Homo sapiens: one gene and its partners. The protein of the gene in region 7 interacts with the protein of the main gene of each other region in a pairwise test. Each region holds a gene or a part of one and is shown on either strand. Other genes may lie near its edges.

Region 1 (4,142 bases), on a different chromosome or scaffold from region 7:
GCTCAATAGAAATTCAAATCTCACTTTAAGACCATGAATTTCAAGTTGCAATGAAGTGTACAATAAAGTTGTGATTTCTCAACATCAAAGTTTAATTATTACAAAATAGTTCAAGCAACAGATAGAATTTCAAAAACAGTATTTGCTTTGCTTCCTTGTTTTGCTCCAACACTAATCATGCTGAGGTTTTTGAAGCACAGCTATGACTAGGGCAGGCACTGCTGATTCAGTCACAAAAACCCTTCTTGGATGAACAATACTTGTTCTTTTCAGAAGAAAAGCAATTTTACCTTTTCTATTTCTATTATGAAAAACAGAGCTAAACAATTTTTGTATTTTTAGTAGAGACAGGGTTTCACCACGTTGGCCACGCTGGTCTTGAACTCCTTCAAGTGTTCTGCCTGCCTTGGCCTCCCAAAGTGCTGGGATTACAGATGTGAGTCACCCCGCCCAGCCCTAAACAATCTTAAAGTCTCCTTTTCCACCAGATGACTAAAATCTTTAGTTTGTAAATTCCCTTAGTCTCTTAAAATCAATCTATCCAGAAGACAAGAAAGACAAACTTAGTGAAGGAAAGAATGCTTCCTCACTCTCTCACCAGAAAGCCAAAGCAAAAATAGAGCCCCACAGAAATTTCAACATTGAACATTTTTTAAATCTTAAAGCTTAGTAGGAATCAAAAAGCTTTATATAAGTCAGCAGATCTGCAAACCTTGTTAGTTCAATACAAACCATGATCTAGCAGACAACTTATATTCAAAAGCTCATCTTTCAAAAGGTTCCACCTTGCCCGTCTATTTAAACAGTCACGACCTTCCTTAGAGAGGCAAGCAGTAATCTTACATGACACATAAAAGCTGTTTCACTGTGACACATATATAATGAAAAGTAATCAGTCTCCAAAGTTTTTCCAATCCACAAGCATGCATACACACACACACATACACACACCGCTTTGGTACTCTTGTCTCTAATAATTTTTAAAGCCTACTTTTCTAACTGAATTTTAAAAGTACCTTGAATTTAAATTTTTTTTAAACTTCAGTCTTCAATATTGAAACTGCTAAGTTACCCCATTTTTCCATGAAAAAAAAATAGAAAAATAAACTTGGGGAAAAAATTAAAAATAAAAAATAAACTTGGGAAAACATTACTAAATAGGTTTAAGAAAAAAGCCTATATAGGCCAGGTGCAGTGGCTCACACCTGTAATCCCAGCACTTTGGGAGGCTGAGCCAGACGGATCACTTGAGGTCAGGAGTTCGAGACCACCCTGGCCAACATGGTGAAACCCTGTCTCTGCTAAAAATACAAAAAGTAGCCAGGCATGGTAGCATGCACCTGTAATCCCAGCTATTCAGGAGGCTGAGGTGGGACAATCACTTGAACCCGGGAAGTGGAGGTTGCAGTGAGCTCCGGTCGCGCCACTGCACTCCAGCCTGGGCAACAGAGCAAGACTCTGTCTCCAAAAAAAAAGAAAAAAAAAAAACGCCTATATAAAGAAAATATTCCAATAGGAGATAAACCTATGTACACAGAGTTGCTCACCCCAGCATTATCTGTAGTAACAATTAGAAACAAATGAAATATTCAAAAACAGTAAATTAGGCAGATGATGAAACAACATGGCAAATGTATGATGCTAAGCCAAATATACAAAAAGATCCCTGTGAGACGGAGCAGGGACCCCTCTTTGGGGTGTGCCAGGGGGATTCCCACAAGCACAGAAATAAAGGAGAATCTTGAGTTTCCTTCACCGAAAACTCCAGGCACCCAGCTCGCCCCGAGAAGGAAACCAGCAAGCTGATAAGCAAGAAGGTCATAACAGTTTCAAACAATAGCCAGGGAAGTTAGAGTCACCTAGAGACATCCTTAACACGTGCCCCTGAGCTACTTTTCAGAAACCCAGACCCCCACCAAATGGATTCACACAGACGTCAGATAAGGGGGAACACCAGGGACTAAACTCTGACCTCCATTCTTTGCTCTCAGTTTCTTCCTGAGGGGCCTGGCCAGACCTTAATGTTCCTTTCTGCGGACCCCAAGTTTTTAGACAAAGCTTTGCTTCCTTAACCAATCACAAATCAGGGAGTCTTTGAATCCACCATAACCTGTAAGCCCGCCCCCTGCCTACCCCACTTCACCTTTCAGGCCAAACCAATATATAAGCTTCATGTAGTGATTTACAATTTTGGTATACAGCCATACCACCCTGAAGGCACCCGATCTCGACTGATTTACAATTTTGCCTTTAACTTCTGCTTTCCTGAAATTTACCACTGCCTTTAAATACTCTAGCTTGTAGGTCATCATGGAGATTGGGTCTCAAGCATGAGCTGCCCAATTCTCCTTGCTTGGCGCCCTGCAAATAAACATCCTCCTTTCTCCTACTGCAAAAACCACCTTTTTGCAGTTTTGCTGTTGAAGTTTGCCTTTACTGTGCAGGTGAGCAAACCCCAGTTCAGTTCACCTGCTACATTTAAACAGTATACAGCTCTATTTGCAAAAACTATACAGGAACATTTGACCTAACAAAAACCACTGGGTGACATCTACCAGAAGTATCACTGCAGAGGATTACTCGACAAAAAGTGCAATTTTCTATAGAAAGCCGAGTGTTTCCCTTGGGAAAGTGTTAATATTTTATTTTTAAGTAACTGGGGCAAAAGACTAGATTTTCTATAACTGCAATAGAATAGGACTAGAAAGGCATCCCTACAAGTCCCCAAAGTATATGGATGGAATATTTTTGATGGTTTTATAAATGACAATTGTAATTTAGCTCTCTGAAGAAAATGTCCAATCAGATTCAATCACACAAAGCATTTACTATTTTCAATCACTTGCCCAATAACAAAATGTTTAGTAAGAAATTATTCAGAACATTAAGTTGTTTATGAAATAAGTGACTAAGCAACATCAAGAAATGCTACAATAGAGCAGCTTACTGTATTCTGCAGTACTCTATACCACTACAAAAACAGTCATAAAGAGCTTAACATACTCAGCATAACGATCGTGGTTTACTTTTTGCAAGCCATGTATCTTTCAGTTACATTCTCCCAGTTGATTACATTCCAAATAGCTTTTAGATAATCAGGCCTGACATTTTTATACTGAAGGTAGTAAGCGTGCTCCCACACATCAATCCCCAGCAGTGGAATAAGGCCTGTTAGAAAGAAGGGGAAAACAAACCAACCATCAGTTTCAGTCTAAAACATTGCATCTTCTCAATTTCAACTTTTATTATTCTACTCACACAAAATTACCCTTTGTAACAATCTCATTCACTTGTTTTTTTATATAAGTAGGAAATCTAGATAAGAATGAATATTCCTATAAAATATTTTTAATTCACTGTTTACAAAGAAAATGTGACAAATACTAACAATAAAATAGACTTGGGAAAATTAACAACAGTACTTTAATAGCTATTCTTAAAAATACCAACAAATTAATTCAAGAGCCAATTCCCAGCCTTCCTCATGGTGGTCTTAGGAGCAGCAGGAAGGGTGGGTTACATCTGTGGGAGCAGGCAAAAGCCCACTGAGAACCTCCTCCAAAGGGTCTGGGCACTCACAGGGGTTTACGAGGAACCAGCTCTGCTCCCCAAGGCTAATTTTAATCTTTGGGAATACAGAGCAGTTGGAGGACACAGTGTTTTCAGAAATTAAGTGAGGTAAATGAAGAATTTAGTTCTATCTGTAAAACATCCATTTAAAAAAACTTTTGGTCTGGGCGCAGTGGCTCAGGCCTGTAATCCCAGCACTTTGGGAGGCCGAGGCAGGCAGATCTCTTGAGGTCAGGCGTTCGAGACCAGCCTGGCCAACATGGTGAAACCCCGCCTCTACTAAAAATACAAAAAATTAGCCTGGCGAGGTGGCAGGCGCCTGTAATCCCAGCTACTCAGGAAGCTGACGCAGGAGAATTGCTTGAACCTGGGAGGCGGAAGTTGTAGTGAGCCAAGATTGCGCCACTGCACTCCAGCCTGGGCAACAGAGTGAGACTCCATCACGCACACACAAAAACACTCAAAATAAATTATAGCTCTCTCTACAAAAACAATTCTTAACCAGTATGTCTTGATCAGTTGTGAGGGAGGTCACTAGTAATTTATTATTAATAATTTCAAGTAGCAAAATT
Region 2 (4,142 bases), on a different chromosome or scaffold from region 7:
GGAGAATGGATTGCAGGAGGGCCAGAGAGGGAACAAGCCAACATACCAGAGGGGATTCTTTTAGCATTCAGCAGACACGAAGAGCGAGGGCATGTGAGAGAGACAGAAACTCTCTCTGGTTGGGACTAGAGTAGGGGAAAGAAGATGTAAAGGAGAGGATGAATTTGGGTGACATCCTGGAGCACAGGAGGCTGGACACAGCTGAATGTCTTGTATCAGAGGCAGGCTGTTTTGCAATAGTTGGCCAAAATGACAGATGGACAAGAAGCATAAAAATGGGAGGCCAAAAAGAGAAAAAGAGTAGGCACATGGGGCTACGAAAATGGGAATGAGGGTATGGTTGAAAAGTTATGATAGTAACCCTGGAAAGATGGCTGGACTAGAGGCTGGCACTTCACTAAGCCATTGCAGGATGTTATTTAGCAGTTATTTGGAAGCTCTGATACTTCAAATTCTATAGTCAGTACATAAACTTTTGATAAGTATGAAATATTTGAATGGATAAAAAAGTATATATTCAAATTAACTTATAGTTTTGGTAAGAGATCTTAAAGCTATTCTTTAATCCTTACTGAGGGCCTATATATTTTTTGTAAGTTATCAGGGGGAAGTGAGTTTAGCTTGCTTTCTTTTCTGTTTTAAATTGACCTAGAAATTCTTACTAGTTGGAAAAATGCTTTATTGTAAGGCATGTGAAACACTAAGCATATTACACAAAACTGTGAATGACACTCAGGGTATATTCTAGTCCCTTCCCTCTCAGATATAAAAGACTTCTTAGACTCTGGCTCAAGAACCATAAAACTTGGAGAATTTGCCTATTTTTTTTCTTCAAATAAGACCTCTTGGAATGCAAGAAAGCATTTACAATTTCCTGTAAGAAGAATTCTATTTTCTAATAAGATGGTGGTATTGATGACTTACTAAAAAATTAGGTTATCTGAAAAAACCTTTTCATTGCTCTCCATTTATTCCACTGGATTTTAAATCTCACTGATTACTTCTTTGAAAAGATTGGAAGAACATACTAGTCATTTTTCATCATACAGCTGTGTTTGGATCACCAGCTGCATATCAATTTTTACTGAACAAAAACACATTAAAAAACAGGTGCCAAGGCATACTGTTGAAATTTTGATAATTTATATTAAGGGTAAAGGACACCCTTAGGCAGGAATTATCTTGCAACTAAGATAACCTTTTTATAAAGGAATTAATAAAAGTGAAGAGCATGATTCTACAACCATGCAAAAAAGAGCCTTTAAAAATTTGTGCCTTAGCAAAGGATATTTACATTTGCAAACTCACCAATACACTTGATGCCGTTTCCAATCCAGCCTTCTCTGCAGCTACACTTGAAGCTTCCTGGGATATTCAGACATGAGGCATGCATGTCGCAGTTATGAGCACCAATTTCACACTCATCCACATCTGATAAACCATAATTCATAAGAAGAAAATCAAAATACAAACTAATTAATTCTACTTCCAAGTATATTTTTGTATAGGTAACATTTTAAAGTAAAGATGCAACCGTATGGAGAAAAGAGTAGCCTAACTAACTTTTATTTTTAATTTTTGTAGGCTCCAAGAGGACTTGGAAAATTCATGATCCTAATAAAACAAGTTCTTCCCTAGAAACAACTGTCAGCCACTTTCCAGTAGAAGAGAGAGAGACACAGCAGTGTTGCTCCCCGGCAGGTATGTGTATTATCCTGGGGCCTTCTTCCCTGCCCAGATTCAGACACAACACCATAAAGAGGACATTCGATTACAGATCAAGAGAAATCTTATTTCCAATAATAGATGGTGCTATTCCTTCCTATTGATATTTATTACATATTTTTCATGAAGATAAGAATCTAACTTTTTAAAAAAAGTAATAGTTTATTCTCTTTAAAATTACATGATCATTTGTCATTTAAAAAATCAATATAAATATTTTACAGAATTTAAAAAAAACTATTCATTTAGGTGTATATTTTTATTTCTTCTACTTATTTGAGATTATAGAAAAATATTCACTGGGAATGTTATCTGGAAAGTAGCCAGATGCTTTCGCCAGTGTGTGTGTGTGCGTGTGTGTGTGTGTGTATTTGTGTGTCTGTATACACACACACATATCCCTATATATGTATGTATAACCTATGTAGATTTGGTTCTCCAAAGCTTTCTTGACTATAAATAGTAATGTGTTCTATCTAGTTCAACGATTACATATTATAGATGCTGAAATCACACACACACACACACACACACACACACACACACACTACTGGCTTCACATCAACCCTGTCAGTGGTGAACATGCAAAGAACACCTTCTTTTATAATCTGCCCCTTACTGGAGGGGTCAGCTTAAGGGCTGGGTTGGACTCTTAAGTCTTCCACCACCTGCCTTGAAAAAATATCACACATAAGTCTTAAATTGTGCACTGAGGAATACGTGATCCAAAACCTTGACCCCGGCACATCCTAGCCCCACCTGCATGCAAAAGGCTAAAACTAGTTAGTAGTAGTAGTAGAGAAAGGGAACAAAAGACAAAGTGAGCAAAGTGAGCAAAGAAGGAAAGTGAAGAGAGGAAAAAGAGAAAGGCAATTTGGGCACAGAGAAGAGAAGACAAAAGCAAACAGAAGAGCAAACAAGAAAGGAAAAGATGGGAGAAAGGAAGAAAGGGAAAGAGTCTCAATGAAACTTGATTAATTTTTACTAGTTTAAAAGAAGTGCAGAGGTAAATGGCAACCGGGATCCTCGGGTCTTTTGGTGCTCTTTGTACATGAATGTCTTCCAAGCGGGCAGCAGTCATACTCAGAAAGTGACTGATGCTGCATGAACGACCATAAGTGGTCAGGGCCATGGGAACCAGACTGTACTCCTACTCACTCACTCTGTCACAGCCCACAGCCAGCCCCACGGTGGGTGGCTCAGACAGCGTGCTACCACAGAGACCAGCCAAATCCATCACACATCCTATAGGTCACACACTCATCACACACACAGTCACAGTCTGGTGGCAGGTAACCGCTCTAAGAGATGCCAGAGAACAAATGATGTTGAAAGTTGGCCTTTGACATCTGAGAAGTTGAAATACAGAGAACACAAGCTTGAAACCTACCTGTACATCCTGTGGTCCCCTTCTTCACTGAGTAACCCAGCTGACAGTGGCAAATGAAGGATCCCTTTGTGTTCTCACATTCCCCAAACATGCAGATATTTGAATTTAGGTCACATTCATTGACATCTAGAAAATTTATTTTCAATATCTTAGTATGTGCTCATCACAGTAATTTAAAAGCTATCTTCTACACTGAATAGCATAATACTGAAATACACAGGCAAGATCTAAAATATAATCCATCCGCAAATCATCGTGTTATAGATAAATATACAACCTGCCTTTAGACATTTTTAAAAGTAATTCTTCCTGAGATTTTACAGTTCTAGTAAAATGATTTGAATTTTTAAAATAACAACAGAAAAAGCCTTCCTTTTATCACGCTTGTGTGTGCATGTGGGTGTGTGTGCATGTGTGTGTATAAATGTTTATCCTTTCTTATGATACCCACCAATGCATGTTTTCATGTCCATGGAAGCCATGAAGCCATCATAGCAGAGGCAGCGATACTCTCCAGGAATGTTGGTACACTGGCCGCCATCACAGATATCAGGATTGTTTTCACATTCATCAATGTCTGATGATACAAAATTAGCATCAAATGAAAATAAAAATGTCGTTCATCAATCTCAAATGTTTTTGTTTTCTATCTGGTTCCACTTGGTAATATCTGGAGCCATATTTTCAAGAAAAAATTAGTTAGATGTACAAAACCTGTGTGTTTTCCTTTCTATACCTGCACACGATCTCCCATCTGGCATCAGGGCATAACCCTCACTGCAGCTGCATTCGTAGCTTCCCTCTGAATTTGTGCACTGGGTGTCACAGCCTCCGTTCATTATCATACATTCATCAATATCTGTGAAAACAGCATTGCAACCACATTGTCAGGTCTGCTTCCTTAAAAGGAGTTTTCTTCTTTTTAAACAGATAATGCTAATGTGGCTTTGAATTTTTCTCCCCACTATGTGTGTTGATTGAACATTATCTTTCTTAGTTCTTTCACCTTCATTTTAGGCAGCATTCC
Region 3 (4,142 bases), on a different chromosome or scaffold from region 7:
CCACACCTGTCCCACATCCACTGGATGCATCTAGGTCTCATACAGCACTAGAAACTTTGTCTGGCAATGCACCATGATAATTATTTCATCATGCATGTTCTGGACCAAGCTCAGTGTGCTTCTGAAACACGACTCAGCAGTCTCCCTGCTTACCTGTGGAGAGGTGACGCTACAATCCAGCAGGTGGATAGTTCTACCATCCTGCATTATGGCTTGGAGCTAAGAGGGGATCCAGGACAGTTTGGTGGGTCCTCTAGGCCTCCACCAAGAAACATTGGTTAAAAGCATCTAAGGGAGAAAGGCCCCAGCCACAGGGAAGGTGGCATCTACTTGTGCTGTCCTACTTGGTTACTTTCACACTTCCAACTTACATAGAAGACTCTGAATCTCACTTAAGTCTGTACTCTACCAAGTGAAGAAAGACCATCAAGACAAAAGGAAGTCAAAGTAAAGTTCTCTCACTGTTAAGACTCAGTGAGAGAAGGACAAGAAAGACACCTCCTCACTAAGGCTGTGGGAGGTAAGAAACTTTCCCAAAACAAAGAGAAGAATCATATTTGAATCTTTATTTGCATGACACCGGAGTTTATTCTCTCTCCTGTATATACACACTACTAAGAGAATCTGTCCTTCTGAAGTTGGGTCAGACTGCTTTTTTGTGTAGCAAGCCAGAATTCACTTATTTTCTGAGTCATCTGTAAGATGACATTTTCTCCTAGGTCCAGTAAAGATAAGGCACAACCTAGTGACCAGAGCATGAGATATAAGGTCTGGCGCCAATTCTTTAAGCACGTGGGCCAGTTATAGCCCATCAGTGTCTCCAATTTGACATGAAGATGACAATTTAACCAAGGACTACCAAGTGGATTACTGTTTATTCAATGTGTTGGATAAGACACTTGGAATTAAGATGAAAAGCTGCATCAACCGCAAGGAAGAAAAATCTGGAGTACCTGGTCAGCCCAGCCCTCTGTCTTGCAGTTACTATGATCAAATTCCTTCAAAGGCACTTTGGAGTGAACAAGGCCTATGTGGGTCTGGAGCTTGTGCTTGACGGTTTTGATGTCCTAGTGAGGCAGAGACAGATCAGAAATGCAAATACATTTGGTTAATTCTTACTTGTTTTCAGTAGTAAATAAAGACCATCATAAATACCAGCCCTTTCTAAATACCAATTAGCACAGGCAAAATATCAAATTGTTGAGTCTAGAAAAATGAGAGAAGGAACCAAAAGTCTTACCTTGAGCCCTGTCCCAGAGATATCTAAGCAGTTTAGTTTCCTAAAAGAAAAGAGGTATCCAATGCCTGCATCTGTGATCTCAGGGTTACCTAGATGTCAAAAACAACGTAGCATTCTGTCACAATATAAATGCTGTTAAAATGACAACCAAAAATAAGCTCAGAAAAACGTCCGGGCAATGATAAACTATAAAACATTTGAGTTGGCAAACTTTTCAAAGTAAATTAAATACAGAGGTCTGATCTTTACTATTTGTAATATAAAAGAGCCACACTCAATGATCCCTAAAGATCCTTTACAGCTCTTACTTTCTAGGAGTTGGGGGTGAGCAGAAAAATAAATGAACCAGGTAGTTATCCCAAAGGGTTTAATTTGGAACCATATGAAAACATACATAAACATGTATTACAATGGTTTATCATACTTTATTCATGGCCATTTCACCTCCAAAGTAAAAGCATTTATTTATTTTAAAAAGATATTCAAGGGAACTTAGACACAGATACTATCACCACTCTTACCAACTTGCATTATTTTCAGAATCCTTTCTTATATATTACTTTCTCACGTCAGAGAGTACTACACTTAGCATTGAGTCCTCAAGGCCATAAGCGTAGTGCCTGGCACATTGTAGATGCTCAAAAAATATTTGTTGAATGAATACACTTCCCTGGGAGGTAGGGAGGACATTCATTATTTCTTTTTTTTTTTTGAGACAGAGTCTTGCTCTGTCACCCAGGCTGGAGTGAGTGACGCAATCTTGGCTCACTTGCAAGCTCCGCCTCCCGGATTCACGCCATTCTCCTGCCTCAGCCTCCCGAGTAGCTGGGACTACAGGTGCCGGCCACCACGCCCAGCTGATTTTTTGTATCTTTTTAGTAGAGACGGGGTTTCACTGTGTTAGCCAGGATGGTCTTGATCTCCTGACCTCGTGATCTGCCCGCCTCGGCCTCCCAAAGTGCTGGGATTACAGGCGTGAGCCACCGCGCCCAGCCAGGACATTCATTATTATCCTCATTTTACAAAGGCCAAAACCAATGCTCAAAGTGGTTAAATAACTGGTCTGAAGGTATATAACTGGTAGTAAAAGTGGTAGACCAAGAAGGGTCCTCAGACCTCAAACCACTGCTCTTTCTATTCTTTTGGCATCATACTGTCCTGCCATAGAGTCAATGGATGCTCGGTTAAATTGTAAATGATCTCTGTCAACCTCTTACCATTGGAGTCAATATCTGGTTAATCTGAGTAAATTATCCGTTCATCCAGCTTTTCATCAGGCAAACACTGATAAAAAAGGACCTAGCTGACAGACACCAAGGATCAGAGACTCAAGGAAAATAAAGATGAGTCAAATGTCCTTTAAGTATGCAATGAATATGATGAAAGGTGTCTCTGTTTGCACACAGCGAGTGGCATGGATGAATGTGTAAGGGTTTTTCCTACCCTAAAGAGGTGGTATGTGCTAGAAAAATCAGTTGGCCAGGAGTCAAGAGTCTTTGGCCTCAATCCTGTTCTGCCACCAAGTTTCTATGGCACCGAGGAAAGTCACCTTTCCTTTCTCACCTCTAAAATGAAGAGGAAGAACTACATGATCTCTAAGGCCATTCTTCCAACATTAAAATAATCTATAATTTCGAAGAAAACTTACATGATAAGTCTAATAATGTTAGATTCTCAAGGCCTCTTTTCATCACTCGAACTGGTGCTGTCATCTTCCGCACCCCAGCATCAGATAAACAATTATCCTTCAGGTGGAGCTGAGTTACACTAGGGAAACAAAGTACATACATAAATTACTCAAAGAGAGTTTGAGACAATCTAGGTATAAAAACATGCTTTCAACATTTTCATTTAAAAATATAACATATCCTCTACCTCTTGCTATTTCATACCCAATGCATTTAACAAAGTTAAGCTCTTTTGGGCTGGGCATGGTGGCTCATGCTTGTAATGTCAGCACTTTGGAAGACTGAGGCTGGAGGATCACTTGGGCCCAGGAGTTAGAGACCCCATCCCTGCAAGAAATTTTAAAAAATTAGCTAGCCAAGGTGCTGTGTGCCTGTGGTCCCAGCTACTTGGGAGGCTGAGGCAGGAAGATGGCTTCAACCAAGGATTTCAAAGCTGCAGTGAGCTATGATTGCACCACTGCACTCCAGCCTAGGTGACAGAACATGACCCTGCCTAACAAAAAAAAAAAAAAAAAGATTTTTTGGTGCCATTTCAGTTACCAAGTGAGAGTTAATTTAGTGTCATGCAGTACTAATTTCAGAGGGCAGAGGGCACTAAAGGTATATTGTTGAATGAGGTAAATGGACTTCCACTAGGGGATAAATATACTTTAAAACAAAAGCTGCTTTTCTGACAAATGGTGTGAAAATCAAAAACATTCTAACTATGTCAGGAAAGTCTGCTAAAGAACTCCTATGAGAATTATTTTTGCAAAGCAAACAATCCTCTAAATTTAACCAGCTTTATCAATCTAGATTTTCAGTTTGGGTTAATAAGGTATACCCATAATCCAATCCATCTGATGCTAAGCTGGAATTGGTATATTAATATGCTCCGTTTTCACATAAGAAATCTGAGCCTTGATGCTGGCTAGCCTCACACAACAGCATCTTTTTATGGGGCAGTAGGTAGGTGTCACTGTCAGAAGCAGGCCTCAGGTAGTAGGTTAGACCTAGGTTTGTAATGCTGTTGTTCTTCTGGGTGTTTATAAAACCACAGAGGGATCCATCTGTCCTCCTCTTTGCTGGCCAGAATAACCTGAGATCAGTCAGACTATTTGTGAATGGTATGAACTGGGCCATTTCTTTAAATCATGACTCCTGAAAAGAATTTCTTTGGCTGTCTTTAATAGTTCATTTTCTTTATAATTGTAGCTCATTGATAGTTAAAGTAG
Region 4 (4,142 bases), on a different chromosome or scaffold from region 7:
CCACTGTAGAATCTCCCTTTTAAAAATAAAGGATCAATATTAGGAACTATATCAATAACGATCATATCAAAGATATGTAAGATCTCACAGGTAATCAAAGCATTTTTAACAGCAAGATGCTATTTTTCAACCCTAAATTTAACAAACATTTAAAAACAAAATGCTCAAGTACTGGCAATCATACTCTGAATCAAACACACACTTATCGCTGACACAGTCTTCAGGTAAATGTGCCTTGCCAACATTCAGAAACATTAGAACAGGCCAGGCGTGCTGGCTCACGCCTGTAATCCTAGCAACTTTGGGAGGCAGAGGCAGGAGGATTGCTCGAGGCCAGGAGTTCAAGACCAGCCTGGGCAACATAGCAAGACCCCACCTCTATGAAAAAGAAAAAAATTAGCCAGGTGGTGTGTGCCTGTGCTACCTGGGAGGCTAAGGCAGGAGAACTGTTTGAGCCCAAGAGTTGGAGGATGCAGTGAGCTATGACTATGACTGTGCCACTATACTCTAGCCTGGGTGACATAGAGAGACCTCATCTAAAAAAAAAAAAACAGAAAAGAAACATTAGAACAGTTCATCTATGCCCTATTAATATGACATTTTTTAAAAAATCATGACCCTCAGAGAATCATGACAACTGACATCAAATACCCTCATAGGGAATGTACACTTCCTACTGAAAATCACTGATAACCTATCTTCTCCTATATCAATCCATCGAGCAATAAGAAATATCCTATATATCCCCTCTCTCTCTCTCTCACACACACGCACACACACACACACACACTCTCATGCCTTAAACACGAGGACATAAACATGCACACACTCTCTCTCACACACACACAAACACATACCACAAACACGGGACTCTGCAACAGATTCCTAGAGAAAATTTTCCACTTTTCCTCACTCAATTTCCAGGTTGAAAATCACTTTACATCTCCACACTCTGACTTAGTAGCCTTAAAATGTAAAAACCAGACCTGTCAAATGTAAAATTAAGGCAAATCATAAAATCTGGTACCCAGAAGAGGGGATAATTCAGGCCCCATCTCATTGTTGGGAGTGGCGATGCCGGTATAGCTTTGACATTCTCACCACCTTCTCTGCACCACACAGACGACAAAACTCAAAGGCAAATGTCAGCCTTTTGAGTTTATCAGTCTTCCTCCTACACTGGAGTTTTAATATACTCATAACGATGTAATAAAAAACAACCAGCCCTGCCTGTTTAAACTCCCTGAACTTCAGTGTCTTCATCTTTATTGTTTTAAGAATAATAACACCTATGGCAGCCATTCTTCCCTTCTTCCTAATAGAAGCAGGATTCTGTAAGATTTGGAGAAGAGAACTCCTGATCTCTGGGAAGGTAGGCTGAGCCACCAGCCCCTCCCAAAGATGTCCATGTCCTAATCCCCAGAAATTAAATATATATGTTAACTTACATGGCAAAAAGGATTTGCAGCTGGGTGGACCCAATCTTAGAACAGGAATCCTTAAAATCAGGGAACCTTTGCCAACAGGGGTCAGAGATACAACAGAAAAAGAGGCAAGAGATATTCAAAACACGAGAAGGACTCGACCACCATTGCTGGCTTCGAAGACAGAGGAAGGGATCCACAAGTCAAGGAATGCACATGGCCTGGAGGAACCAAGAAGTGCCCACACCTGACAGCCAACAAGGACACAAGGTCCTCTGTCCTCCAGACACAAGCAACTGAACTCTGCCAGCAACCTGAATGAGCAAGAAAACAGATTTTCTCCAGAGCCTCCATAAAGGAGCACAGACCTGCTGACATCCTGATGGAGCCAGTGAGGCCCATGCTGGACTTCTGACCTCCCAAGCTGTGAGATGACAAATGTGTGCGGTTTCAAGCCATGCCATTTGTGGAACTCTGTCATGGCAGTAAGGAAAAATGAATCCCTGGGGTAGGCATGTCACATGGCTCTGGTAAAGGGATGGAAGGGGAGTCAAGGGATGAAAGGAGAGCTCGGGCAAGACACTAGAAGAATGCTCACCCAACATGCCCTCTGCATCCTGCGTGTGAGGATGCGGGTGTGTAAGGACCTGAGGCCTGCTAGTCCTGCATCATCCTGCAACTGTGGAAGATGCTCAGGAAGACAGCAGGGCCTGCCATCACTGAGCCACTCAGTGAACACCAGCCATGGCCTCCCTCCAGGTACCTTATTATGAGAAGAACAAACCCAGCTTGTTTAAGTCCCACTTAGTCAGGTGTTATTACTCCTAGCAGCATTTCTAACGGACAGAACCACCTTCTTGCCAGGGGTGTTTTCAGGGTCAACTAAGACAACATGAGAAGCATGGAATAACATTCAGGCACCGTAAAGTGCACAGTATGTGAGCTTTCCCTTCCCTGTACCACATCAACTATGACTTAAAAGCCTGCTCTAATTTATCAAATAAAATATCACACCACTATGAGAGACTTCTCAAATCCTTTGTTTCCAAAAACACAGAAATCTCCTTTCAAGCTCCCCACAGATACGAGTCCAAATAGAAGCTATTTTCACAAAATTCCAAATAACACAACTCTCTCTTATCTCTTATCTAATCCCATACACTAAATCTAACATCTGCAACTTTTCATGCCCGAAATCTGCACGAGTTCATTAATTAAATGAATGAGATGTCCACTCATTCATTTAATCAATGAACATTACAACATGCCTACTCTGTGGCAAATATGCCTAACAGGATGGAGGCATAACGCCTAGGGGGAAGAGGGGAAGAGAGAGCAAAAAGGTGACAGTGACAGAAAATAAAATGGAGATGGAAGAAAGAAAAGAGAAGTGAGCATGTAGAAATAGTGGTGGAGTCTGTCATGGCAATGAGCACGCCGGCTGTAGCACCACAGGCGCCCCGGCCCTGGCAGCATGTGCTCTAGGAGTCCTCCCTCCAGCCCATTAAGGGTGACAATGGCTCTCCCTTTCTGCAAAACTAGCCAATATGCATGGGCAACTTCGTAGGGTTGGTGCTCTTTTGGTCAAGGATACACTTCGAAGAGACAAACTCAAATTCTTCCTTATTTTTCATTTTGGAGAAAACACACACACACACACACACACACACACACACATACACATACACACTACAAACTGCATAAACTAGTTACATGTGAAAGCTTATGAAACCACCAGTACTGAGACTACCAGTATCATTAAAAATGTAGAATAGGCTGGGCACAGTGGCTCACACCTGTAATCCCAGCACTTTGGGAGGCCAAGGCAGGAGGATTGCTTGAGCTCAGGAGTTCGAGACCAGAGTGGGCAACATAGTATGACCTCATCTCTACTAAAAAATAAAAAAAAATTAGCCAGTCATGGTGGCACGTGCCCCGTAGTTCCAGCTACTCAGGAGGCTGAAGTGGGAGAATCACTTGAGCCTGGAAGATCAAGGCTGCAGTGAGCCACGATGGTGCCACTGCACTCCAGCCTGGGTGACAGAGCGAGACCCTGTCTCAAAAATAAATAAATAAAAATGCATTATAAAAAGATATTTTAATTAACCTACTGCACTCTTGGCTTTTAGCTTTTTAAAACGGCTTTTGTCTGTAACAGTGATTCTCAACTGGGGGTGATCTTTTCCCCCCAGGGGACATTTGGCAATATTTGAAGACATTTTCGGTAACCACAACTGGGGAGGGGTACTACTGGCATCTAACAGGTAGAGCCCAGAGATGCCGCTAAACATCCTACAATGCATAGGGCAGTCCCCACAATCAAGAATTTATCCAGCCCCAAAGGCCAATAGTGACAACGCCGAGAAGCCCTAGTCTACAGCTTGTCTGCTACTTCAGACCTACCACCTGATCCATGGGGTCACTGGAGTAGTAGTTTTCTGAATGAGTGCATCGAATCCACACAGGCTTAAGAAGTTCTTCTTCTTCCTCCTCATTCTTGTCAGGCATGGTCTCCTCGGGCTCTTTTTCCTTGATTGAGGTATAGTTCTTGTCTTTGCCAGAACTCTGGTTGTCACTCCAACGGTCTTTTTCTTCCTCCCAACGAGCTCTCTTCTTCTCCCTACTTGGGGAGCGACTTCAAAAGAGGGCAAAGGAGGTTAATTATTAAAAATACTCTTCCACTGTAAAAACTATTCTATTTCACCTATTTGGTGCATT
Region 5 (4,142 bases), on a different chromosome or scaffold from region 7:
CTAGTAATCATGAGGTACCTGCCCCCATGATCCAATACCTCCTACCAGGCCCTACCTCCAACGCTGGGGACCACATTTCAACATGAGATTTGGAGGGGACACACAGCCAAACCATATACTGTGTTTCCAACAACAGAATAAAAAGCTTTACCCCATGACAAGGATTTCAGACCAAAAGGCTGGTGGATGAGGTGGGGGCAGGGTAAAGAGGAGAGTCCCAGGGTCGGACATCAAATTGTGGAAGTAGGTGTCCACCTCTGAGGCCAGCCTCTTAATAAACTGGAGAAGAAAGGAAGGCTGGAGCTCCCTAGAGTTTCACCGGGAACCTGCCTGGACAGGAGCTTCCATTTCGTCTGGGCTGTGCTTGGTGGGTGCGTTCCCGACCCTCAGAGCGCCCTTGTGCATGTTAGCCGAGGAGTCAGGGCCAAGCCTGTGGACAGCAAACCAGTCTGCACCGCAGACCTATGAAAGTCCTACTGTGGAGACACAGCCTGAAAAATGCCAATGCCAAGTCCTTCTGGAGTGAGAGGACGCCAAAATAAAAGGACTTAGTACAGAGGTCATTTAAAATAATACACTGTAATCAAGTAGCTATGTGATAGGACATTTAAAAATCTCAGTTGAGAAGAAAGATGGAACTAATTTTCTCTCTAGTACAAAACTGGTGACTAATGTTCAGCTGGAAATGTCCAAACAGATTTAGGGACATTAATAACCAAAAATTATGTTTGTGCATTTATTGAATAGGAATTAAATGACTTGCCTTGAGGACAAAGCGACTGTGGCAGAGGAGAAGTCAGGGCTCACATCATCTCAGGCCTTTGATTCCGGTCCCCTGGGCCCTTGCCTTGTGTGAGACCGCTGGCCCTTTGGTGATCATGGGGCCAGGCCTCTGCGTACCACCTCCACCGATCCCCGTGCAGCTGCCTTGGCGGCATCATGCTCCCCACCGTAAAGACTTGGGCTCACACTGGGCCAGGGGAAGTCCCTTGCCTTGTCCAGAGCCTCAGTCTCATGGGCCCCCATCTGATCCCAGTCATTCTGCTCCTAAGTCCTTTCCCTGAGCCCCAGGCTGTGTCACCTCCCTTGAAAATAAAGCCCCGTGGCTTCCACTTGCTGCTGGTATTCAGACAGAGTAAAATCATGGCAGGGAAGGCCTCCGCCACTTGGCCTCCTCCACTGCTACCTGGACAGGCTCCTACTCAGTTCTATTACCTTCATCCATCCATCTCTCCATGTCACATACATGCACAGAGTGAGCTCTGAGCTCCAGGCATTGTGGGACTGGCTGTCCATCCCTGGGAGCTGACGACAGAGTCATGTACCTGCCCAGGGCGCTCACACCAAATGCTATTGTTCCCATGCTAGCCCTTCCATTGGATCAAATGTAGTGTAGCTGGCACCCAGACCTGGGATCCAAACAAGTTTTCCTATCAATTCTTTACTCTCCACCCAACAAACACTAACATCAAAGCACCTGCCCAAAACACGTTTGGTTTTTAGCACATAACTAAGAATCTTTTTTTTTTCTTCAAACATTTCCCTACTCCCTGCTGGACTTTATATTTGTTTTTGGGAGAAAGATTTCTCTGCCCCTTTTGTTACTTGTTACAATATACATAATGGACCGGATTAACTGAACATTCTTGATTGCATTTGAAAGATATTTTTAAAAACAGATGCCCTTTTAAAATATTTTATCTGGCCCCTATTTCATTGGGAATCAATATAAAAGGATATGTTTATTTTTCTGAAATATATTGTTAAGAATTTGTATTTCTTAAGCTCAATCAAAGCCTCTGAAGTATTCATACAGTTGAAAGAAAGATGTGGGGCCCACATTTCTGGCTGTGAGCAGGGTGTTGTTAACAGTTCAAAGGCTGGGCACCACATCAATACTCCCCACATGGAACACCTGGACAGGGCAGACCATGATGGGTATGACTGGGAAAACAGCAGCCAGAGCCCAGGGAAGAAAAGGAGGCTGCCTTCATAATCCCCAAACCAGGGGTCTCCTAGCCCACATCCAGCAGCGAACGACCCCGCAACTGCTCATCTGTGTCTGCTCAAGGATTGGTAACATTCGACCAACTCTTATTGCCTCAGGTATGGCTGATCTAAAATCCCAGCCATCTAAAATATCATCCAGCACTCTGCTTTTGGTGAAAAAAAAAAATCCTAGTGACAAAATAATGAGAAGTTAATCCTCCAAAATAAACTCTTGATATGTCTAGGGCCAGTACCTAAAATTGGCAGCACGCTACATGTACCCACGGGCCTCTCCTCACTCTCTCTAGATTTGGTGTCCAGAGCAGAGAGACACGTGGCCCAAATGCTGAGCCAAGAAACAGGAGGCCTCCCTGCCTGGGATCCAGCCTTGTACGGAGTCAGCAGCCCTTCCTGCCCAGTGGTGGGGAAGGGGTGAAATCGGGCGGAAGTGCAGCAGCTGTGAGGGGCCCAGAGATGGCCCAGGACAGCCCCTTTCTTTGGATAAGCAAAGTGAAGTTCTGAGAGTTTCTAGGGTAGGCCACAGCTTCCTAGCTTTATGTTCTGGTCTAGAAGCTGCTCTCTTACCCTGATTCCAGACACCTGATTCTAGGCCACACTGCTTCTCAGGGGTGGGTTTCGTTTGCTTTTGCAGTGCCTCACACCCAGCCTGGTTTAATTCAGGCCACGAGCCTGGTTAATGTGCACAGCAAGTTGCATTTCTGCCTCATCGATCACTGGAGTCAATGGTGCATATTGAAGAATGAATGCCTTCATGGTAAGTGATAACATTATGGGATTAAAATACTTAATCACGCAAAATTTACATAATAATCATTTAGATTGCCATGCAAAAATTATCTGGCATGCCACACCACACTGATTTGACCTACTGATCTGGATGATGCACAAAAGGTATCTATCTATTTGTATGGTTTTTGGCTTGGTTCATGTATTCATTCAAACTTCATTGATTCTTTTTTTTTCCATGACAGGGTCTTTCTCTGTCAACCAGGCTGGAGTGCAGTTGTGTGAACATGGCTCACTGCAGCCCTGACCTCCCAGGCTCAGATGTTTCTCTCACCTCAGCCTCCTGAGTAGCTGGGACTACAGGTGTGCACCACCATGCCCATCTAATTTTTTTGTGTTTTTGGTACAGAGTTCCATCATGTTGCCTATGCCGGTCTGGAATTCCTGGCCTCAAGTGATCTGCGTGCTTCAGCCTCCCAAAGTGCTGGGATTACAGGTGTGAACCATTGCACCCGGCCTCAAACTTCACTGATTCTTACATGTGCAATGCACAGCATTAGATGTTGTAGGGGAAAGATAACCACAGTTTACTGCATACCAGCCAAGCGGCCTGTCAATTATATGTATCCTATGTCCCCCTCACAGCAGCAGCCCTGGGAAGTAGCGATGATTACTCCCATTCTAGAGAACACTGAAGCCTGCATTTTGAGTCATTTAGCCAAGGTCACACCAGAGTCAGAACTTGACTGACTGAACCCAAAGTACATGCTCTCAGAGACACACCCTCCACCCTTAAAGCACTGGCTGCCTAGTGGAGGAGATAAACTACTTGAGCAAGTGAACTGGAAATCAAAGTCAAGTCCAGTAAGTGCTTTAGGACAGGCAGAAATAACGTTCTATGGAACCAAGAGTAAGAGAGATTCCTCTCAGGTAGGGGAGCCAGGAAGGCTTTGTGGAGACTGAGACTTTTGAGGTGGGCCTTGAGGTATGGGTAGGAGTTTCTAAGATGGAAATAAAGGGGAAGGAGGCTGAGAGCAGGGAGCTGAGTCTTGGGATCTGGAAAGCTTTGGGAGCTTTATGGAAGACAAAGCCATTGGGTCAGTAGGAAGAAAGCCAAAAGAAAAACTAGAGATGTTCTTAGAACTGTAGTTTTCTTCCCAAGTGATATTCAAATATTAAGAAGGCCAGTCTTTACCCTAATGGATACATTCATTCCTGCTTTGGCAACAGAACTTCTGTGAGGGTGACTCAAATGTTATAAATGAAAAAGACTTGTCTAGCAAGGGAATACGGGGCAGCTTCGATCCTGTTCCCTCCCTGCTCCCAAGCCTGCCTCCCTGGGAGGTCACTTGGGGTGTCTCTGGTCCAAGCCAGCAGTCATTTTAGCAGGTGAGTCCAGCATCTCC
Region 6 (4,142 bases), on a different chromosome or scaffold from region 7:
GCAAGACCCTCTCTCTAAACACACACCCGCAAGCAGGTACAGTGATGCTATGGTGTCAGAAGTCAGGGCAGTGGCTGCTCCAGGTGGGGAGTGGGCTTGGGCATGGAGGGGGCTCAGGGGGTCAGGGGACCTCTGGCTGCTGTCATGTTCAGATGCTCGACCTGGATACTGGATATACAGACCTGAACTGGGCTTGGGGATGGGGCTCACCTTGGAGAGGGCCACGAAGGGGAACTTGTCCATCTCCAGCCTGGTCTCCTCCCCAGGGTTGTGGTGGAGCTGACCCTTGAGGATGCGGGCAGCCGTCACTGTGGAGACACCCATCCCTGCAGTGGGGAGTGGGGGCCTCAGTCTCTCGTGCTCCTGCCTCTCCAATCAGCCTGCTTGGGTACCCAGAAGCTCTCTAGTTCGGTACCAAGGCAGGCTCGGGCAGTTGGCACTGGGCATGGCTCTGTAAATGTCAGTGAGCAGCCCCTCTCTCCCTTCACCCCCAGATCCTCAGGGGGCTGTCTGGCAGAGCAGGCCTCTTGAATCCACAGCCTGGCCCCTCATCCTTTTAAACACCCTTCCTCCAGAGCCCTAGCCCCTTCAACACAGCCCCCTTCAACTCAGCCTGGCTCCCGGGGCTCCTAGCTAGGTGTCCTGTTCCACCCCTCCCACAGGCCCCTGGGCCTCACCATCTCCCAGGAACATGATGACATTCTTAGCCACGTTGGTGTTGAGCTTCTGAAGCTCCAGGGCATATTTCAGTGTCTCTTGCGCTTGGTCTCGCCAGTACTTGGGGTCTTTCTCTTTCTCTAAACACAGAGAGAGGCAGTTACTTGGCGGGGTAAGGATAGCCTCCTATCTCCAGACGTACAGATCCCCCCACTTCTGATTGCTCAGGCTGGAATGCCTGAACTTGGAGGTGGGTGCAATAGTTGCCCACCCAGACAACACATCTGTGGTTTATAAATATGTGCCATCCAGATCCTCCAGAAAAGCCTGTGGACCCTGGGGTCTTCTCCTCACATCTCAGAATGAAGAAACCAAGGCTCAGAGACAACGAGCAACTTGCCTAAGGCCACACAGCACAGGCAGACACTGGCAGGGCTGGGTTTCGCTCCAAAGCCCATGCTCATTCCTTCTACCCAGTAGGGAGATGAGCTGCTAAGGCAGCAAATGAATTGTGCTAGCACAATTAAGAGAGTAATGTTTAACCTATTCAACAAACTCCTTCCAGCAGAAGGGGTCCCCTGATATAGCCAGCCATCAATTATCAACTCTGCTTAGCTTATTCATTAAAGTAGGCTCAGCAGGAACCTGACTTGGTTTAATAGCAGTGCTGGAAAGCGAAGCTTGCCTTTTGCTTAATATGTCAAATTTAAAGGAGCCAGGTGATCTCACTCTTGTTAGGATTAGTTATCAAGGACGACATTCTGCATCTCTCATCGCCCCCTCCATCCCTCTTGGCTGATAGTGACTTCTGGCTGGGGCTTTATGGTTTTGAGATAAAATGAGAACTAAGAACACTTCTTTCTCTCTCCCTCTTTCTCATGTGTGTGTGTGTCCAGCAACCAATCCACAGCTTTAGTGCCAGACAGACCTCAATTAAAACCCCAGCTGCTGGGCATGGTGGCTCATGCCTGTAATCCCAGCACTTTGGAAGGCCGAGGCAGGCAGATCACCTGAGCTCAGGAGTTCGCGACCAACTTGGGCAACACGGTGATATCCCGTCTCTACTGAAATATGAAAAATTAGCTGGGCGTGGCAGTGTGCACCTGTAGTCCCAGCTACTCAGGAGGCTGAGGCAGGAGAACTGCTTGAACCCGGGAGGCGGAGGTTGCAGTGAGCTGAGATCATACCACTGCACTCCAGCCTGGGTGACAGAGCTAGACTCCGTCTCAAAAACAAACAAACAAAAAACCCCCAGCTGCTCCAAGTACTAGCTCTGTCACCTCCCTCAGCCTCAGTCTCTTCCCCTGTTAAATGACATTGCTGGCATCATCCCCTCAGGGTCGCTCTAAGGACTGGGCCGGATAAGGCAAGTGACACACCTGACCCACAGGAGAGGCTCAAAAGTTGCCTCCCATCCCCATTATCCCGTCTCCAGGGCTGGACCAGGACCCTGGCTATGGGAGCTGGAGTCCCTCCCAGAGTCTGCGGGGCTCCCCTCTGTCCCAGGGCCCTATCAGATCTGCTCAGAAGCCTAGAGAGGAGGCTCCCTAGCGGTTTCCTCTTTCAAGGCCTCCCACTGCACAGAACGGGAGGAGAGATCAGGAATGGGAGGGTCTTGTCCAAGGCCGTGTAGCATGTTCGTGGGCTGGGGACACAATTCTCATCTTTTGGCCCAGCTCCGACGCGTGCCTGGCTCTCGGAGTGGCCGTGGGTAAAGAACAGCCCTCCTTCCTCACACACGCACTGGCTCTGGGCGAGATGCCAGGGACCCCCCACACAGCTTCTCTTATTCCTCTCAACTGCCTTGGCAGGTGGGCACCAGTGTCTCCTCCACATTAGGAAATGGAGAGCCTGAGATTAGGGCCCCAAGTGGGAGAACCGGAAACTCACGCGTCGCCGTGGCTCTGCCCCAGCCTAGCATAGGCGCAGAGCACAGGCGAGGAGCCGCCAGGGTGCTGCAGTGCACCTCTAGCTTTGGACCCAAGCACACCCCACGCCCCTCCCCAAGAGGCCTCCCCTTACGTCACCACCACCCCAATCCCTCAGCCCACTACCCTCATCCCGACAGCCCCAGGTCCACCCTCTCTCTTCTGGAAGTGTCTGCTGAGGGCATCAATTTCAGATGTCCCCACGCAGTCCCCACTGGGAATTGGGAGCACCTTGGCCCTTCTGCCCGACAGGGTGCCTTTGGACAAGAGTTTCTGCCCCAGGAAATGGGACACCCGTAGCTATCCACAGGCAGTTCTAGGATGACATGAGATAAAGTCTGGGCAAGGCCGGGGCCAGAGGTTTTCCTCAGAGGTCCCCCAGGCCCAGGCTGGTTCCAGCCTCCCTCCTGCCTTCCTCAAAACACACCACGGTGCTGTTGGTCATAGAGCCTCTTTGGCCAGTTGGGTGCCACTGGGTGGTGAAGACCTTCTACCCACCCTGACCCGCTACAACCTGTACCTGACTTAACAGCTTGGAGGTCCCAGGGCTGGGCTGACATCAGCCCGCCCCACACCTGTTGCCCTTGTTCAGCCCAGCCTCTGCCACCGGGTCCCCTGCTCCGTTGAGTGCTTGTTCTCTCTAGACTGGAGTCCCACAAGGGCAGAGTCCTTGTCTTTTTCACCAGAGCCACCCAGGGCCTGTCCCTGAGAAGGGTTTGGAGTCTGGTTTAAGCAACAATGGCTCTGGACAACTGGATTCCAAGAGGCTATTGTTTTTGGAGACTACTAAATGATATGTGCTAATGCTCACGATAGAATGCCAGGGAAAGGGCACTGATCGGTACATACTATATGATTCCATTTATATGAGGCTCAAAACAGGCAAAGCAAGTCTCTGGTGGCCAATGTAAGCCTGGGCATCTCCTCTGGCTTTGGGAGGGGGTTGGCACAGGGAAGCCCACAGATGCCTCACAACCAGAAATGTTCTGTCTTGATCTGGGTGGCGGTTACATGGGTATAAATATATGTCAAAATTTTTTCAGGCTATGTATTTAAGATCGGTGCCCTTTTCTGTAAGTTATATCTAATTGAAGAAAAAAAAGAAGGCTGAAGAAGTGGCTCATCCTGTAATCCCAGCACTTTTGGAGGCCATGGTGGGAGGACTGCTTGAGGCCAGGAGTTTGAGGCTACAGTAAGCCATGATTGTGCCACTGCACTCCAGCCTGGCAACAGCAGATACAAAAAGTTGAACTGCTGAACGTTTGAAGATTTTTCATGTTGTCACTTTTTCACCTTTTCCCTTTTCATCCATTAGTTCATCTTTCACCCAGGTGGGCTGTAAGTGCTGAGAAGGCAGGGACCCCGTCCCAGAGTGACCTTGGTCCCCCAGGGATGCAAATGGCACCACGAGGTCTCAGACGCAGCAATGGCCTGAGAGCTCAGCAGCTCAGGCTCAGTGCCCCACTGCACCCCATCTCCTCATCTGCTGAAATACAGCCGTCCTAAGAGAAGAGACCAACATTCACTGAGCATCCACTCCTTGCCAGACACTGTGAC
Region 7 (4,142 bases):
TGAAGCCACCCAGTCTTTGGCACTTTTTTCCCCCCTGAGATGGAGTCTCACCGTATCACCCAGGCTGGAGTGCAGTGGCACAATCCCGGCTCACTGCAACCTCCGCCTCCCAGGTTCAAGCGATTCTCCTGCCTCAGCCTCCCAAGCAGCTGGGATTACAGGCGCCCGCCACCACACCCTCCTGATTTTTGTATTTTTTGTAGAGATGGCATTTTGCCATGTTGGCCAGGCTGGTCTCAAACTCCTGACCTCAAGTGATCTGCCCGCCTTCACCTGTCAACATACTGGGATTACAGACGTGAGCCACGGCACCTGGCTTTGTGACACTTTTTTATGGCAGCCGTAGCCAACGAATACACCATCCCGTGATAGAACCTTTGTGACTGATCCCCATGAGAGGCCACGGTGGGGACCACCTGAAACGCCCAGACCAGCCTGCACTCACCTCAGGTTCTGAAGTTTGCAGTTGGGGTGTCTGAGTCCTTGACAGAGCAGCTTCACCCCCCGGCTGCCCAGGGCATTTCGGTACAGAGACAGCTCTATCAGGTTTGGATTGGTGCACAGGGCCGCTGCCAGATGTTCACTGTAGGCGTCCAGCAGAACGGTCCTCTCTGGTCTGCTTGAAGGAAAGACAGGCCACTCTCTGGTGTTACTGGTGCTTGACAACTATGGCCTTTGCATGTCATTTCACCGTTTATGAAGCATGCTATCCTTTTTTGAGACGGAGTTTCGCTCTTGTTGCCCAGGCTGGAGTGCAATGGCGCAATCTCAGCTCACCACAACCTCCGCCTCCTGGGTTCAAGCGATTCTCCTGCCTCAGCCTCCAGAGTAGCTGGGATTACAGGCATGAGCCACCACGCCCAGTTAATTTTGTATTTTTAGTAGAGATGGGGTTTCACCGTGTTGGCCAGGCTGATCTCGTACTCCTGACCTCAGGTGATCTGCCCGCCTCAACCTCCTGAAGTGCTGGGATTACAGGCGTGAGCCACCACATCCGGCCAAAGCATGCTATCTTTTCATTTTTTTTTTTAGAGGGCCTTGCCCTGTTGTCTAGGCTGGAGTGCATGGTGAGATCATGGCTCACTGTAGGCTTGACCTCCCAGGCTTAAGCAATCCTCCCACCTCAGCCTACTGAGAAGCTGGGGCTACAGGTGTGCACCATCATGACCAGCTAATTTATTTTATATTTTTAGAGATGGGGATCTCATCATGTTGTCCAGGCTGCACCTGGCTCTATCTGACGCTCCTAATCATTGATAGTTGGTTTACTTGTTTCCCTCTTTATTATCTGTCTCCGTTCTCATTAGGATGCGTGCTCTCTTGGGACCATTGGCTTATTCACACAGTCTTCTGTCTACAGAAGATTGTTGGGTCCACCGATAAAAGGGATATAGAGGCTGGGTGTGGTGGCTCACACCTATAATCCCAGCACTTTGGGAGGCTGAGGCCGAGAGTTTGAGACCAGCCTGGCCAACATGGTGACACCCCATCTCTACTAAAAAAATACAAAAATTAGCTGGGTGTGGTGGCACACTCCTGTGGTCCCAGCTGCTCAGGAGGCTGAGACACGCAAGGTGGAGGTTGCAGTGAGCTGAGATTGTGCCCCTGCACTCCAGCCTTGGTGACAGAGCCACACTCTCTCAAGAAAAAGGGACTTAGTAATATTTGTTGATTGAATAAATTCTCCCAGACATCGACCTCAATTTAGTCCCAATGGGTGTTGTTTAGTCTTTGTGGCACTATTGACACTTTGGGGCCAGAGGGACTGTCCTGTGTACTGTAGGATGTTTGCAGCATTCCCGGCCTTTATCCACTAGATGTCAGTAGTATTATTTGCTTCCCAGTTGTGACCACCAAAAACGTGTCTCCAAACATCGCCAAATGTCAGAGCAAAATCACCCCCAGCTGAGAGGCACTGGTTAAGAGCATGAACCTCAAGGCCAAGGTGGGTGGATCACTTGAGGTCAGGAGTTCAAGACCAGCCTGGCTAACACAGCGAAACCCCATCTCCACTAAAAATACAAAAATTATCCTGGCATGGTGATGGGCACCTGTAATCCCAGCTACTCAGGAGGCTGAGGCAGGAGAATCGCTTGAACCCGGGAGGCAGAGGCTGCAGTGAGCCAAGATTGCGCCACTGCACACCAGCCTAGGAGACCAAGAGAGACTTAGTTTAAAAAAAAAAAAAAAAAAAAATCGTGGGCCGGGTGCAGTGGCTCATGCCTGTAATCCCAGCACTTTGGGAGGCCAAGGCGGGCAGATCACGAGGTCAAGAGATCGAGACCACCCTGGCCAACATGGTGAAACCCTGTCTCTACTAAAAATACAAAAATTAGGTGGGCGTGGTGGCGTGCACCTGTAGTCCCAGCTACTTGGGAGGCTGAAGCAGGAGAATCTCTTGAACCCGGGAGGCGGAGGTTGCAGTGAGCTGAGGTCACGCCAGTGTACTCCAGCCTAGGCAACAGAGCAAAAAAAAAAAAAAAAAAAAAAAACACACGAACCTAAGCAGCCCCAGGGGATACCCCAGGGATACTTACAGCTGCACCAACAGCGTGTGCGCTCCTGCGGAGCACCTCGCGCGGTCTTCCCCGTCCGCGCTGTAGGTGGCGCCATACAAGTGCAGCACCTGGGCGCTCCTGCAGCGCTTCAGACAGAACGAGGAGACCATGTGCTCCATCTTGGAGGCAATGTTGCTGACCACGATCACCTGGAAGTGGCTCAGGGCCTGCTGGATAAACTCCTCCTCCTGGATCTCGTACAAGCAGCTGAAGAACTCCAAGGAGCCCTGCTGCAGGGTGGAGCCGTCGCTCTGAGCTTTGCTTTGGATCCACTGCAACAGGTCCATCTTGATGTGCGGCGAGACCTTCCAGCAGAGACTCTTCTCCAGGTGGCTCCTGGTCTCCTCGTTCAGGAGTCCAAACAGGAAGCGGCTGGTGAGTGCCAGGAAGCTCCTTTCAGAAAACGCGTACTCGGTCAACAGCCTGGTCACGTCCTGGTCTGGGCCTGCCCCGCCCTCCCCCTCGTCCAGGATATAGTACATAGCTGCAAAGAATTCCTGGAAACTCAAGTGGATGAAGCTGTAGTACCTCTCACAGTTGATGTCCTTCTGGAAGATGTTCATGTTGAGGAAGGCAGAGACGTCTTCCCCGTCTAGGCCGTGCTTCCGGAGGTCCTGCTCCTCAAATAGGATTTTCTGATTCCAGAGCCCATCTGCCGCCAAGGAGCACAACCCTCTCTGGTTGGGTGGGGGCTGGAGGCGCGGGGCCCCCGGCTTGGGTTGCATCAGACTCAGCAGGTAGAGCATGTACACTGCAGTGGTGGTCCTGGACGTCTGTCTCAACAGCCCCCCACCCTCCAGCTGCTGCTGGAGGCAGGTACACACCACCCAGCACACCAGGGGGACGAAGCACATGGTGAAGAGAGGCTCGTTGTCCCTCACGTAATTGAAGACTTGGCCCGCCTGCTCTGCATTGTGGAAATACTTGTAGAAGTATTCCTTCCTTTCTGCCTCAGAGAAGCCCAGGATCTCCACATGCCTGGGGTGCTCCAGCAGACGGTGGAGCTTCTCCAAAGCCGTGGGCCGTGTGGTGATGAGCAAAGATAGCTCAGGGAGCAGCTTCTTCCGAATTAAGCTGTTAAGAAGCAGCTCCGTGGGCCGTTTCTCCTCCCAGCAGAGGCACCAGGGTCCCTGAGGATCGTGGAAAGAAGGCTTGAGCTCATCGAAGCCGTCGATGATGAAAAGGAGGCGCTCGGGAACTCGGATGAGCTCCTGGAGAGGCGCGCTGGGCTCAGGCCAGCAGCTGAAGATGAGGTCTTGCATGCTGCATTCCGTGGCACTCTGGTTCATCTCCCTGCAGTTGATGTAGAAGAGATAATCAAATCTGCCTTGGAAGAGCTTCCCGTCCGCCCAGTCCAGCATCACCTTGTGTGCCAGCATGGACTTGCCTATCCCTGCCGCGCCTTGCATGACCACGGTGCGCGGTGGCTCGGGGCGCTCCTCGTCTGGCTCAAAGAGGGTCTCTATCTTGATGGGGCTAGCCTGGTGTCCCACGGTCCTCGCGTGTCCCCGGCCTGTGTCCAGAAGCTGCTGCTGGACCTGCATGGGGTTTGAGTGCTCCTTCACCAGCAGGAGCCGGGTGTAC

The links.
Region 1: the proteins of NLRP12 (region 7) and SOD2 interact in a two-hybrid assay, tested with the Homo sapiens proteins (one large-scale study listed by IntAct).
Region 2: the proteins of NLRP12 (region 7) and FBN2 interact in a two-hybrid assay, tested with the Homo sapiens proteins (one large-scale study listed by IntAct).
Region 3: the proteins of NLRP12 (region 7) and LRRC42 interact in a two-hybrid assay, tested with the Homo sapiens proteins (one large-scale study listed by IntAct).
Region 4: the proteins of NLRP12 (region 7) and DROSHA interact in a two-hybrid assay, tested with the Homo sapiens proteins (one large-scale study listed by IntAct).
Region 5: the proteins of NLRP12 (region 7) and PTPRE interact in a two-hybrid assay, tested with the Homo sapiens proteins (one large-scale study listed by IntAct).
Region 6: the proteins of NLRP12 (region 7) and ALPL interact in a two-hybrid assay, tested with the Homo sapiens proteins (one large-scale study listed by IntAct).

The regions. Positions count from the first base shown.
Region 1 is NC_000006.12:159,679,471-159,683,612, forward strand, and holds part of SOD2 (superoxide dismutase [Mn], mitochondrial isoform A precursor), read right to left. Parts: intron 3,169-4,142; coding exon 3,023-3,168; 3' UTR 1-3,022. UniProt on the Homo sapiens protein: Destroys superoxide anion radicals which are normally produced within the cells and which are toxic to biological systems.
Region 2 is NC_000005.10:128,331,604-128,335,745, forward strand, and holds part of FBN2 (fibrillin-2 precursor), read right to left. Parts: intron 3,975-4,142; coding exon 3,852-3,974; intron 3,693-3,851; coding exon 3,567-3,692; intron 3,242-3,566; coding exon 3,116-3,241; intron 1,432-3,115; coding exon 1,309-1,431; intron 1-1,308.
Region 3 is NC_000001.11:53,959,221-53,963,362, reverse strand, and holds part of LRRC42 (leucine-rich repeat-containing protein 42), read right to left. Parts: intron 3,008-4,142; coding exon 2,889-3,007; intron 1,330-2,888; coding exon 1,241-1,329; intron 1,068-1,240; coding exon 954-1,067; intron 1-953.
Region 4 is NC_000005.10:31,511,161-31,515,302, forward strand, and holds part of DROSHA (ribonuclease 3), read right to left. Parts: intron 4,060-4,142; coding exon 3,828-4,059; intron 17-3,827; coding exon 1-16. UniProt on the Homo sapiens protein: Ribonuclease III double-stranded (ds) RNA-specific endoribonuclease that is involved in the initial step of microRNA (miRNA) biogenesis.
Region 5 is NC_000010.11:127,909,914-127,914,055, reverse strand, and holds part of PTPRE (receptor-type tyrosine-protein phosphatase epsilon isoform 1 precursor), read right to left. Parts: intron 1-4,142. UniProt on the Homo sapiens protein: Isoform 1 plays a critical role in signaling transduction pathways and phosphoprotein network topology in red blood cells. May play a role in osteoclast formation and function.
Region 6 is NC_000001.11:21,557,281-21,561,422, reverse strand, and holds part of ALPL (alkaline phosphatase, tissue-nonspecific isozyme isoform 1 preproprotein), read right to left. Parts: intron 798-4,142; coding exon 678-797; intron 327-677; coding exon 211-326; intron 1-210. UniProt on the Homo sapiens protein: Alkaline phosphatase that metabolizes various phosphate compounds and plays a key role in skeletal mineralization and adaptive thermogenesis.
Region 7 is NC_000019.10:53,807,050-53,811,191, forward strand, and holds part of NLRP12 (NACHT, LRR and PYD domains-containing protein 12), read right to left. Parts: coding exon 2,538-4,142; intron 620-2,537; coding exon of another isoform or gene 617-619; coding exon 446-616; intron 1-445. UniProt on the Homo sapiens protein: Plays an essential role as an potent mitigator of inflammation. Primarily expressed in dendritic cells and macrophages, inhibits both canonical and non-canonical NF-kappa-B and ERK activation pathways.